Linked DNA regions of Homo sapiens: region 1 is linked to region 2. The links come from fine-mapping of genetic effects on gene expression. A gene starts in region 2. The other region holds a variant in brackets. All regions are shown on one strand. Distances are from middle to middle. Region 1 has its middle 32 kb from the start of CCR7. Region 2 holds the start of CCR7 (C-C motif chemokine receptor 7).

The links. PIP is the estimated chance that this variant, and not a neighbour inherited with it, causes the effect.
Region 1: its variant is fine-mapped to the expression of CCR7 in lymphoblastoid cells (GTEx, PIP 0.96).

What each region holds. Positions count from the first base shown.
Region 1 is chr17:40,594,359-40,599,741 of GRCh38, reverse strand. No RefSeq gene overlaps it. Among named protein-coding and RNA genes, the nearest start is that of CCR7, 32 kb to the right of the region's middle. RefSeq lists enhancers at 344-643, 851-1,145, 1,572-1,781. The variant T/C (reference allele first, on the strand shown) is at 2,444.
Region 2 is chr17:40,563,376-40,568,758 of GRCh38, reverse strand. CCR7 (C-C motif chemokine receptor 7) reads left to right here and starts at 3,287. Exons shown (of 3, transcript NM_001838.4): 1 at 3,287-3,359. The coding sequence starts at 3,350. RefSeq lists an enhancer at 3,732-4,648.

The sequences.
Region 1 (5,383 bases), 31 kb before region 2:
GGGAAGCCTTTTGTTAATAATAATAATAATCACCTGTGACTCCCATCCATGTGGGCTCACGTCAAGCGGGCCAGCCCCTTGCCTTCTCTTTTTGTGAGTCTCTGTGACCCACAAACACACACCCTTTCAACCGAGTCTGCCATGTATTTCAGGAATAACACATGTTCCGGAAGACGGCCTTTCTTGGGAAACTCACTGAAAAATGAATTAAGGGACTTGCCCAACTGTGTCTCGGGGCAGGAGGTAAGAAGGGCATGACAGCCACGGGACCTTTTCCACCCATTGACCGACACTCCCTCTTTCCCCAATTCTGCCCTACAACGTCAGAGACCGGATCAAATTTCCCTACTTGCTCTGTCTTCACCTCCCCTTTCTCCCCTGCTCTGTGACGCATGATGTCCCTGGAGAGTCCCCCACATCATCACAGAACAAAAACAAAAACAGCAGAGAAAAAATGCCAAACCTCGCTCCCCCTGCCCCCTCTACTATGAGTCGCCCACACGATGAGGGTGCTTGGTTTCAAATACTAGAAATGAGATGGCCTTTTTTTTCTTTTCACTTCTGCTATTTACACAGAAGTGCCTCGGTGCTAAACCCACCATAATTCAAGTTTATTTTTGGATTTCTCAGCTGTAGAAATCTACAGAATGCCAAAATGGGCTGAAGCAACTCTGTCAATAGGAGGAAGGAGAGGGTGGAAGGGAATGAATGTTGTCGAGAACCTGCTGCGGGCTGGGGCCTTACTGATGCGATTTCGTTTCCTCCTTACAAAGACTCTTAGAAGAAACCCTATTATCAATTATCTTTTGAAGATAGTGAAACCGAGATTCTATGTAGTTAAGCAACTTGGTCTAAGTTGAACAATTTGTAAGTGGTGGGACCTAGATTTAAAACCAGGACTGACTCAAAAGCCAAACTTCTTGGTCTCAGCCCTCACTCCCACCCACGTCCGCACCCACCCGCTCTCTTGCTTCCACAGCGAATTATCACGTGCCTTCTGTACCCATGTGTTTGCACTCTCTCTGCCCCAGCCCCCTCCTGTACTTTGCCCTTTTCTGCTTTGGAACAAAAACAGGGCCAACCAGAGAAGGTTCGGGAAATTTATGGTTTGGTTTCGTTTCTCCCCAAAGCATAGTACATGTCTGATTTCAACCCATTTAAGTAACTGACTTCGGGCCCTCTGGGAATCCTGTCGGGGAGGAGAGCCAAGGTGGACAGAACTCTAATGGCAGCATGGAAGACGGCCAGACTTGAAGCCACGCAGATCTGCGCTGGAATCCCAGCTTGGGCACTTAAGGCTCTTAAATGCTGCTAGGCCTCCATTTCTTCATCTATACATTGGCAATGACATACCTATCTGGCAAGTAGCTGGGAGACCCAAATGAGATGATGTGAGGGAAACAGCCCAGGTCAGATTCCAGCACATAGCAGACATCCAAGAAATGTCTCCCTCTTTTCCTCTCCCACATCCTCAGGAAAGGGGTTCAGGGCTGCCACCAGGGAGCCTGGCCTGCAGAGAGCTTTGGTAACTCTCTGAGGAAGCACAGTTAGATTCATTTCGGCCTGTCTCAAATATTTGCAGGGCCCAGGCAAGAGTACAAACAGAGGCCTACGCACTACCTGCCCAGATAGTTACATTATAAATAGAGCTAACAGACTTATAAAATAGGTTCCATTTCATAATGAAACTATACATTTTCATAACGACCTAAAGGGTCATGTTTAAATTTAGAATTCTCAGACTCCTTCGAGAACTCTCAGACTCTCCCCTCAGCTCCCCTTCTCTACTCCCCAGCCTGGATACCTAAGCGTCATCTACAGCCACCATAAACAGCCAGGACGTGGTCATCAACAGAGTCTAGGGGTGCATACCAAGCTGTGCAGTCTACCCTGTGGAGGATTTTCCCTGGGAAGAGGCCCATGCAAGCCTGAAAGTGGCTGAGGACTCTTTGGGCCGGGAATACTGGGTCCTGAGACCTGGAGTGTGACATAGAAGGGGGGACATGGACCAGTCCTTCACCTGACAAGGGTACCGTCTGAGGAAGGCCAGAGAAAGACCTCTAAGGTGTGGGTTCCTCCACCTGAATCTGAGGGCAGGCTGCATTTGTTCAGGTGCTATTTACCTATCACTCTAAACAGGAATTCATGCAGTGAGCCGGAGCCACAATAGTGAGCTCATCCATCTTCCTGAGTTAAGCCCTAAATCTGACATTGAAAAGAAATTATACTTTTGATCATTTCAATTTGTTTTCAATAATCTTTATCTTTCTTCACCCCCAGGACAGGAGCCAAGGAGGGGGAGATTCCAACATGCATACATTGGTATTTACACACAGACTCTCTTCTGCTCCATTTTTGTTCTTTGCTTAGAAAGTCTTTGTTCCAAAAACTACAGACAGAAACCAGTTCAGTGGTTGTGAGGAGCTGAGGGTAGAGGAAGGGG[T/C]TGGCTACAAAGACACGTGAGGGAACAGTGGTGTGTGATGAAACTATTATATACCGTATGTTGTTGGTGGTAGTACATAATTGTATGAATTTATTTTTTAAAAAATTCTAGACCTGTACGCTAGAATGGGTAATTTTTACTGCGTGTAAAATTATACCTCAAAAAACTATGTAATAAAAACTCTTTGCTCTAAACCATATTTTAAGAAAGGAGCAGGATTTTAAAAGGGGAATGTGTTCGGACATCTAACTTCACTTCCTATGGTGTGACATTCAGGGTGAGTCAGTGTAATGGACACCTGTCACATTCATGATGGCGGCTCATCATCTTACGGACAGCTTTTCTTTCTGGAGGAAATTCCTTTATTATTGTCCTGCCTCCCGAAATAGAAGTCAAGAACTCAAACTCCCGGTATCCCCTGCAGTTAGGACACAGGCATGTGACCTACCCTCCACCAATCAGAAGCACTCATGTAGGCATTGATTCATGTGACCTACCCTCCAGCAGTCAGAAGCAGTCATGTAGGTGCCGATTCATGTGACCTACTCTCCACCAATCAGAAGCAGTCATGTAGGAATTGATTCATGTGACCTACCCTCCACCAATCAGAAGCACTCAGGTAACTGCTAATTCACAAATGAGTACTGTATTGACACGAGGGCTGCATGAGGCTTCTATTTTGCTGGTGTGCAGACAACAGAGGCATTTAACTTTGGGGCTTTTAAAAGAAAAACCTTAGGCAAATTAAATTTAACAGAATTTAGTGGAGCAAAAACCAATGTGTGAGTCAGGTATTCGCCTGAGCCACAGTAGGCTCAGAGAGACACTAGCACAGCCACTTGGTGGGAGATTTACAGACAGAAAAAGGAAGTGAGGTACAGAAACGGCTGGATTGGTTATAGTTGGCATTTGCCTTATTTAAACACGCTTTGAACAGTTGACTGCCCTTGACTGGCTGAAATTCAATGAGTGGCACAATAGTAGGTTACAGTCTGTTTACACATCCAGTTAGGTTGCAGTTTACAGTGTAGGAGAAACCTTTAGACAGAACTTAGAATATGTAAGGAAGCAGCTTTAAGCTAAACTTAATTTGATAATTCCCCCCTTTTGGTCATCCTCTTAATTTTGAGAGATAGACCAAAACTTTAGGCACTGATGTCACTCTGTCACCATGATAAAGGTACCTATTTGGTCCTAAATCCCATTGGGAAATAGCAGAACAGTGGGTTTGTGAGGTGGAAACAAGGACTTCAGGTTATTTTTTTTTTAAGGATTAGAGTAGCAGGGACCTCTTTGTACTGCAGTCTCCTGTTTTTAAGAGAAAAGCAAAACTTTTGGTCTGTTTTCTTAAAGTTTCAGATCGATCATGTCACATTTGAGTGACTCTGTTTTGGTTTGGTCTGGTCTGCTGGGGTCTAATGCACAATCTCAGTCCAAAACAATTGCCTCCTATAATTTTGTTTAAAATTTTCCCCCTTCTGGTCAGGTTCTCACTTAGGTGAGAGTGTGACCAAAACTTAGGCCATGAGCTCCACTCTCGCTTACCATCATTTTGGGTTTTCAGTCTCAGCACATAGTTCATAGGTTACGGTGTCCTTATGGCCACACAATTCTTTGAGTTATTGTCATTCCAATCTAGGAGAGACCATCTGACATTCTGGAGATGGCTACGTACAAACATTTAGAACTTTTGAGAGAATACAGCACACCAGGGAGATTACAATTATGACTATCAGAAGGATAACACCAGGAGTTTGGAGTATGCTCTGTATCCAGGTTCCGCATGAACCAAACCAACTAAAATCAAATAGATCAAACAATAAACTCGATAAAGAGTTTACTCATTTCAACCAAGCAGCCTGTCCATTAATCCCCTACAACTGAGTCTCTATAATACCCTATGTATTCCTCCGTGTGTAATTAGATGTGTCAGCAACTGCAGACACTACTTTGTTTAGCCAGTAAGTAAACCAGAGCAATTCTATTAGTTAGTGCAACTTTAGCAAGAGAATTTAAAATCTGTTGTGTAACCAGAGTCTCTGTAGTAGAATCTGTTATCTAGCCTATTATGAGGGATAAATTTTTAATCATTGCCTCATTTACTCTAAACCAAGAAAAAAAGATCTAATAAATGATGCCTATCTAGAAGAGTGAAGGCCTCTTGGCAATGTTTTAACCTATGACATAGGTTAAGAGGAGTGGACCAGTGTTCTGTTTCTGAGTGATTATGAAGCAACAAAGATACCAATAAAATTTTTCATCCACATTGGCCCTTTATCCTTCATCTGTCAAGACGTAAGGGTGTCCATATAAAAGGTTTGCTTCGAAATCCTCCACTAATAAAAGTATACTCCATGAGTGTACAAAAGAGACCTTATTTTCAGTTCTATTTTTCATAGAGGCCTGTATTAGTCCATTCTCGCACCGCTATAAAGAAATACCTGAGACTGGGTAATTTATAAAGAAAAGGGGTTTAACTGGCTCACAGTTCTGCAAGCTGTACAGAAAGCATAATGCTGGCCTCCGATGGGCTTCTGGGGAGGCCTCAGGAAATTTACAATCATGGCAGAAGGCAAAGGGGCAGCAGGCCACATCTTACATCATCAGAGCAGGAGCAAGAGAGAGAGAGTGGGGAGGTGCCACACACTTTTGTTTAAACCAGATCTCATGAGAACTCACTTTTGCAATGACACCACCAAGGGGTTTCTTACGTTAACCTAAGAAACCACCCCCACCATCCAATCACCTCCCACCAGGCCCCACCTCCAAATTTGGGATTATAATTAGACATGAGATTTGGGTGGAGACACAGATCCAAACCATATCAAGGCAAAAGCAAGGAAAAACTGAGAGATACAAGTCTCACGGTAGCAGAGAAGTCTTGATCCATGATCTTGGGAAAAAGTTGTTCATATCTGGGATGCCATCTGTTTCTGGGGA
Region 2 (5,383 bases):
GTAGGTGCTACACTGTTGCCCGTGGCTGGCTGGAATTCCAAGCCAGTTGGTCTTATCTGGTGAGGTGCTGTGGAAGTGAGGCCCACAGACCAATGCTGCTCAGCTCCCTGGATTCAGCCTCCTTCCTAGGGGTATGTACAGACCTCCTGCCTTGCCTGAATGGCGGTCACCTTTGCTGGGGTTCCGGAGCCTGAGTATGTAAAGCTCCTGGGTGTCTGTGCATGCCTGAGCAGCTGCTCTGCCAATAATCCAATGCAGCTCTGTGTGTAAGACCCAAAGGCCTGGTGGAGTGGGTTCACAGGGGATCTCCCGATCCAAAGGTTGCAAAGATCGGTGGGAGAAGCATCATTCCCCAGGTTTGCACATTCACTCACCACTTCCCTGGTGGGGGGAGGGGAGGGGGTTTCCTTTGGGTCTGTGTTGCTCCTATGTAGGCCATTGCCCTGCCCTGCTTTCCTCTATCCTCTGTGGGTCGAGCTGATTCCTTAATCAGTCCCAATGCAAGTATCTGGATGTTTCAGATAAAGGTTTTGAAGTACCCACCCCTTTGTTCCTCTCTGAGAGAGCCATGCCCCATACCTGCTTCTAGTTGGCCATCTTTGAAAATAAAATTAAGAAAACAATTTCATTTACAAGCACATCAAAAAGAGTAAAATACTTAAGAAAAAATTTAACAAAGAAGTGAAAGACTTGCAGCCTAAAAAGTATAAAGAAATTAAGGAAGACCTAAATAAATGAAAAAAATCCCATGTTCATGGACCAAAAGACTTTGTTAGAATGGCAATACTCCCTAAATTGATTTACAGATTCAATGAAATTCCTATTAGAATCCCAGCTGGTTTCATTGCAGAAATTGATAACCTAAAATTCATATGGAAAAGAGAGAGATGCAGATTAGTCAAACAATGTTTAAAAAGACAGATAAAGTTGGAGCAGTCACAACTCCCAATTTCAAAATTTGCTATAAAGCTACAGTAATCGAGACAGTGTGGTACTGTCATAGGACAGACACAGAGATTGATAAAATAGAATTGATAGTCTAGAAATAAACCATTACATTTATGATGAATTGATTTCCAACAGAGGTGCTAAGACAGTTCAATGGTGGAAAAAATAGTCTTTTCAACAAATGATGCTGGGAAAACTAGATATCCATATAAAAAATGAAGCTGGATCCCTACCTCACACCATATGCAACAATTAGCTCAAAATGGATCAGATCTAAATGTTGCAGCTAAAACTATAAAAGTCTTAAAAGAACATATACGAATAAATCTTTGTATACTTGAATTATGCAATGGTTTCTTAGATATGGCACCAAAGACACAATTGACAAAAGAAAAATAAATCAATTGAACCTCCACATTTAAAACTTTGCGCTTCTTTTGCCAGAGATTCAGGTTTTAAAAAACAAAAAGCCTTTGTGCTTCAAAGGACGCTATCAAGAAAGTGAAAAGATGATCCATAGTAAGGGAGAAAATATTTACAGATATGTATCAGATAAGGGATTGTAACCAGAATATATAAAGAAGTCTTACAACTCAATAATAAAAAATAAATAACCCAATTTTTTAAATGGGCAAAGGATTTGAATAGAAATTTCTCAAAAAATAATACAAATGGTCAATAAGAGCATGAAAAGATGCTCAGCATAGGTAGTCATTAGGAAAACGCATATCAAAACTACAAAGAGGCCGGGCATGGTGGCTCATGCCTGCAATCCCAGCACTTTGGGAGGCCGAGGCTGGCAGATCACCTTAGGTTAGGAGTTTGAGACCAGCTTGGCCAACATGGTGAAACCCCGTTTCTACTAAAAATACAAAAATTAGCCAGGCATGGTGGCACGTGCCTGTAGTCCCAGCTACTTGGGAGGCTGAGGCAGGAGAATCACTTGAACCCAGGAGGTGGAGACTGCAGTAAGCCAAGATCGTGCCACTGCACTCCAGCCTGTGCAACAGAGTAAGACTCCATCTCCAAAAAAAAAAAAGAAAAAAGAAAAAAAACACAATGAGATACCACTTTACAGCCACTAGGATGGCTAGAATCAAAAGAATGGACAATAGTAAGTTTTGTTGACAATGTGGAACCCTCACGCATTGTTGATGGGAACAAAATGGTGTAGTCACTTTGGAAAACAGTTTGATAGTTCGTCAAAATGTTAAATATATAATTACCATATGACTCAACAATTTCACTTCTAGGTATATACCCAAGAGAAATAAAGCATATGTCCACACAAACACTTGCACATAAATATTTATAGCAGCATCATTCATAATAGCTAAAAGGGAAAACAGCCCAAACATCCAACTGATGACAGACAAACAAAATGTGGCATATCCATACAATGGAATGTTATTCAGCCATAAAAAGGAATGGGGAATGGATCCATACCACCACATAGGTAACCTTGAAAACACTAACTGAAAGAAGCCAGATGTGAAGGTCACATATTGATACTTCTATTTATGTGAAATGTTCAGAATAGGAAAATCTATAGAGCCAGAAAGTAGATTTGTGGTTGCCAGGGGCTTTCGATGACAGGAGGGGAGGGGAGCAGTCATTGCTAGTGATTACAGGGTTCTTGAGAGGGAGTGAGAAAAAATGTTCTAAAATGTATTGTGGTGATGGTTGCATAACTCTGTGAACATACAAAAACCATTGAATTCTATACTTTAAAAAGGTAAATTTTATGGGATGTGGATTATAGCTCAATAAAGCTGTCATTAAGAAAGGAAAAGGAAGGGAGGGGAGAAGAGGGAAAGGGGAGGGAGGGGAGGGGAGGGGAAGGGGGGAGAAAAAAGATACATCGTGGCATATCTCTTCCCTTTTACCTGTCATTATGTGTCAGTGCCTCCCATTGGCCTAAACTACCCAGAAGCCAGAGGGAAAGCCATTTGGGACTATATTCCACTGTGACACTGAGCAGAGCAAGGGAAGGATGGGGACACTTCTCTCACACATCTCTGACTCCCCAACATCTAACCCATGGCCTGGCATGTGATATTCATGCTATAAATATTTGTTGAATCAGTAAATGGCCCCTCATCTAGATTCTGCCAGGCAGCGCAGGGGGCTTTTTGAATGTAAATGACCTAATGATTCAGGATCCTATGACCAGCGACTGTCACCCTCTGTCACCTTTCTTCTGCCCCTTTATCTCTGAAGGCATTGAAGGGGCCCTGCATGAGTCAGGGAGGGCTGGGGGGAGGAGCAAGGGTGGGAGGGGCAGGGAAGAGGGTGGCTTCTCCGACAACTTAAAAGGGGCTTGAACCACTTCCTCCCCAGACAGGGGTAGTGCGAGGCCGGGCACAGCCTTCCTGTGTGGTTTTACCGCCCAGAGAGCGTCATGGACCTGGGTGAGTGAGCCTCTTCATGTGAGAAGGAACAGTACCAGGGTCTTGGACACCCAGACTGACCCTGTGGAATGGGGGTGGAGGATGCGGGTGGAGCGCATAGGGGTGCTTCCTGGAGAAATCAGTTCTGATTTGGTGGGCATTGGAAGCTACTTCCAGAGAATGCCCCCTGCTGTCCCAGGAGGGGTGCACCTGCCCTTTCAGACCTGGAGAAGGGGTCAGCCTTTGGTGCCAGTGGGGACAAGGGAGGGGCCGAGATCATGTCTTTCTAAAACAGCAGGGACATAAGAGAGTGGCGGGGCTGGGCTTGGTGGTCTGGCAGAACCTGTTCTCATCATGAGGGTGATAGGTTAGGCCCTCTGGGACCTCTGGGGACAGGTTTCAACAGAGAAATTCTCCCTAGAGAGCTTAGGACCTTTTACCCACTCTCTGATTCCCACCTTTCTCCCCTGCCAAATATTCATATACCTGTCCACTTGGGGTCATGAGGAGATGCAAATGAAACGTGACTGGGTTGTGAGAATGGTGCGGTGCATTGCAAATGCAAGCTCTGGTTGCTTTCTCTCTGCTGCACATCCCACCTGCTTTGATCTGGCTTTGCTGTTGCCTCTTGCAAGTTAAGGAACGGGCAGGCAACATGGAATGGGATGGCAAGGGGCACTCAGCTTGGAGAAATCATAGCCAGGCCTTCAGCACAGCCCCTGCCCCTGAGCAAACCTCACGCACTCTGCCCCGGCAGATAACTCTACTCTTTAGAAAGCCCTTTCTCAGGTCTAACCTAGAAGGGGTCAAGGGGAAGCACTGAGGGTGTTCTGAGTGGTTCATCCAGCTCCAGACGCCCCCTTTATAAATCTCAGCTGTGGAGTCAGACCAGGCTGAGGCTAAGAAGACCAGGTTCCTAGATGGCTTGTCTCACCAGCAAACAATGCACCACGGCGGCCTCAAAGCCGCAAAGGGTTGGCTTTAAAAAGTGAAGGTTCCCTGGTGCTGTCCTCACACCCCTCCTCGCCACACCACAGCCTCCTTGATTTCATCTCTTACTTTCCCGCCTGCCCTGAACGCTGGATCTGGACCCAGCAAACAGCTGTGAAAGGGTTAAAGTGGTCACCCCACCCACTGACTGTGAACTCCTGAAAGGCAGGTTCAGGTGCTTTGAGGATGTGAGGAGAAAATGTCTGCGGAATGAATGAATACACCGTATCAAGAACTCCGTAGAGTTTAGTTTTTGAAAATCTCTTCCAAATGCCTCATTTCCCAGCCAATCTACCCTTAAATCCCACTCCCCTGCACCCCCTCCACCACCCCCCATCACAATCCCACAGTACAGACGTCACCCACAGAAGACCCTGCTCCAGCCTTTCATACTGGCCTCCAGGAAGGAAACCAAGCAGTGCCCAGTGGTGTGCTACTGGGCATTTGAAAAGCAGCTCCCCGGGGTGGAGCACTGGTAGCTGACTCCAGGGTGGAGGGAAAGTCCTGAATTTGTAGTGCTTGCCAATTTCCATGGTGTAAATTCTCCCACCCTGGCTGATTGATTTCAAGCCATCTACATGACTGAACAGGGGGTTGGGAAGATGTGCAGAGTGTCTTACCCCAGACTAGGTTTAGGGGTGCTAGACTCCTAGGCTTTGATGCAGGGAGAGAGGGTAATCTCTGGTCCAGGAAGAAGGGATATTCTTGCCACTTCACTCAACTTGAGAGAGCCCCAACGGTCAAACCCGAAATACTGGTAGGAGGGGAAGCCGCTGACAAGCTTTACTCAAAACGGGCTCTCTGGGCCGTTGATGGGGTGGGTGGGCCTTGGAGGATCTGTTGTTCTGCTCTTCATCTGCCCAGCAAGGAGCAAGAGGTGGGTGAGGAGGGAGGGTTTCTGTTACACAAAATGAAAACTCCCAAGCAGGGCTGAGCTGGCCTTTTTCACGGTTTGAATGAGCAGCTCTGAGGCACCCTCCCCACCTTCGAGCAATGAGACCGAAGATCTTTCATAATTCTCAAAAGCAAAGCAAGGAAAAAATGAACCCATGAGA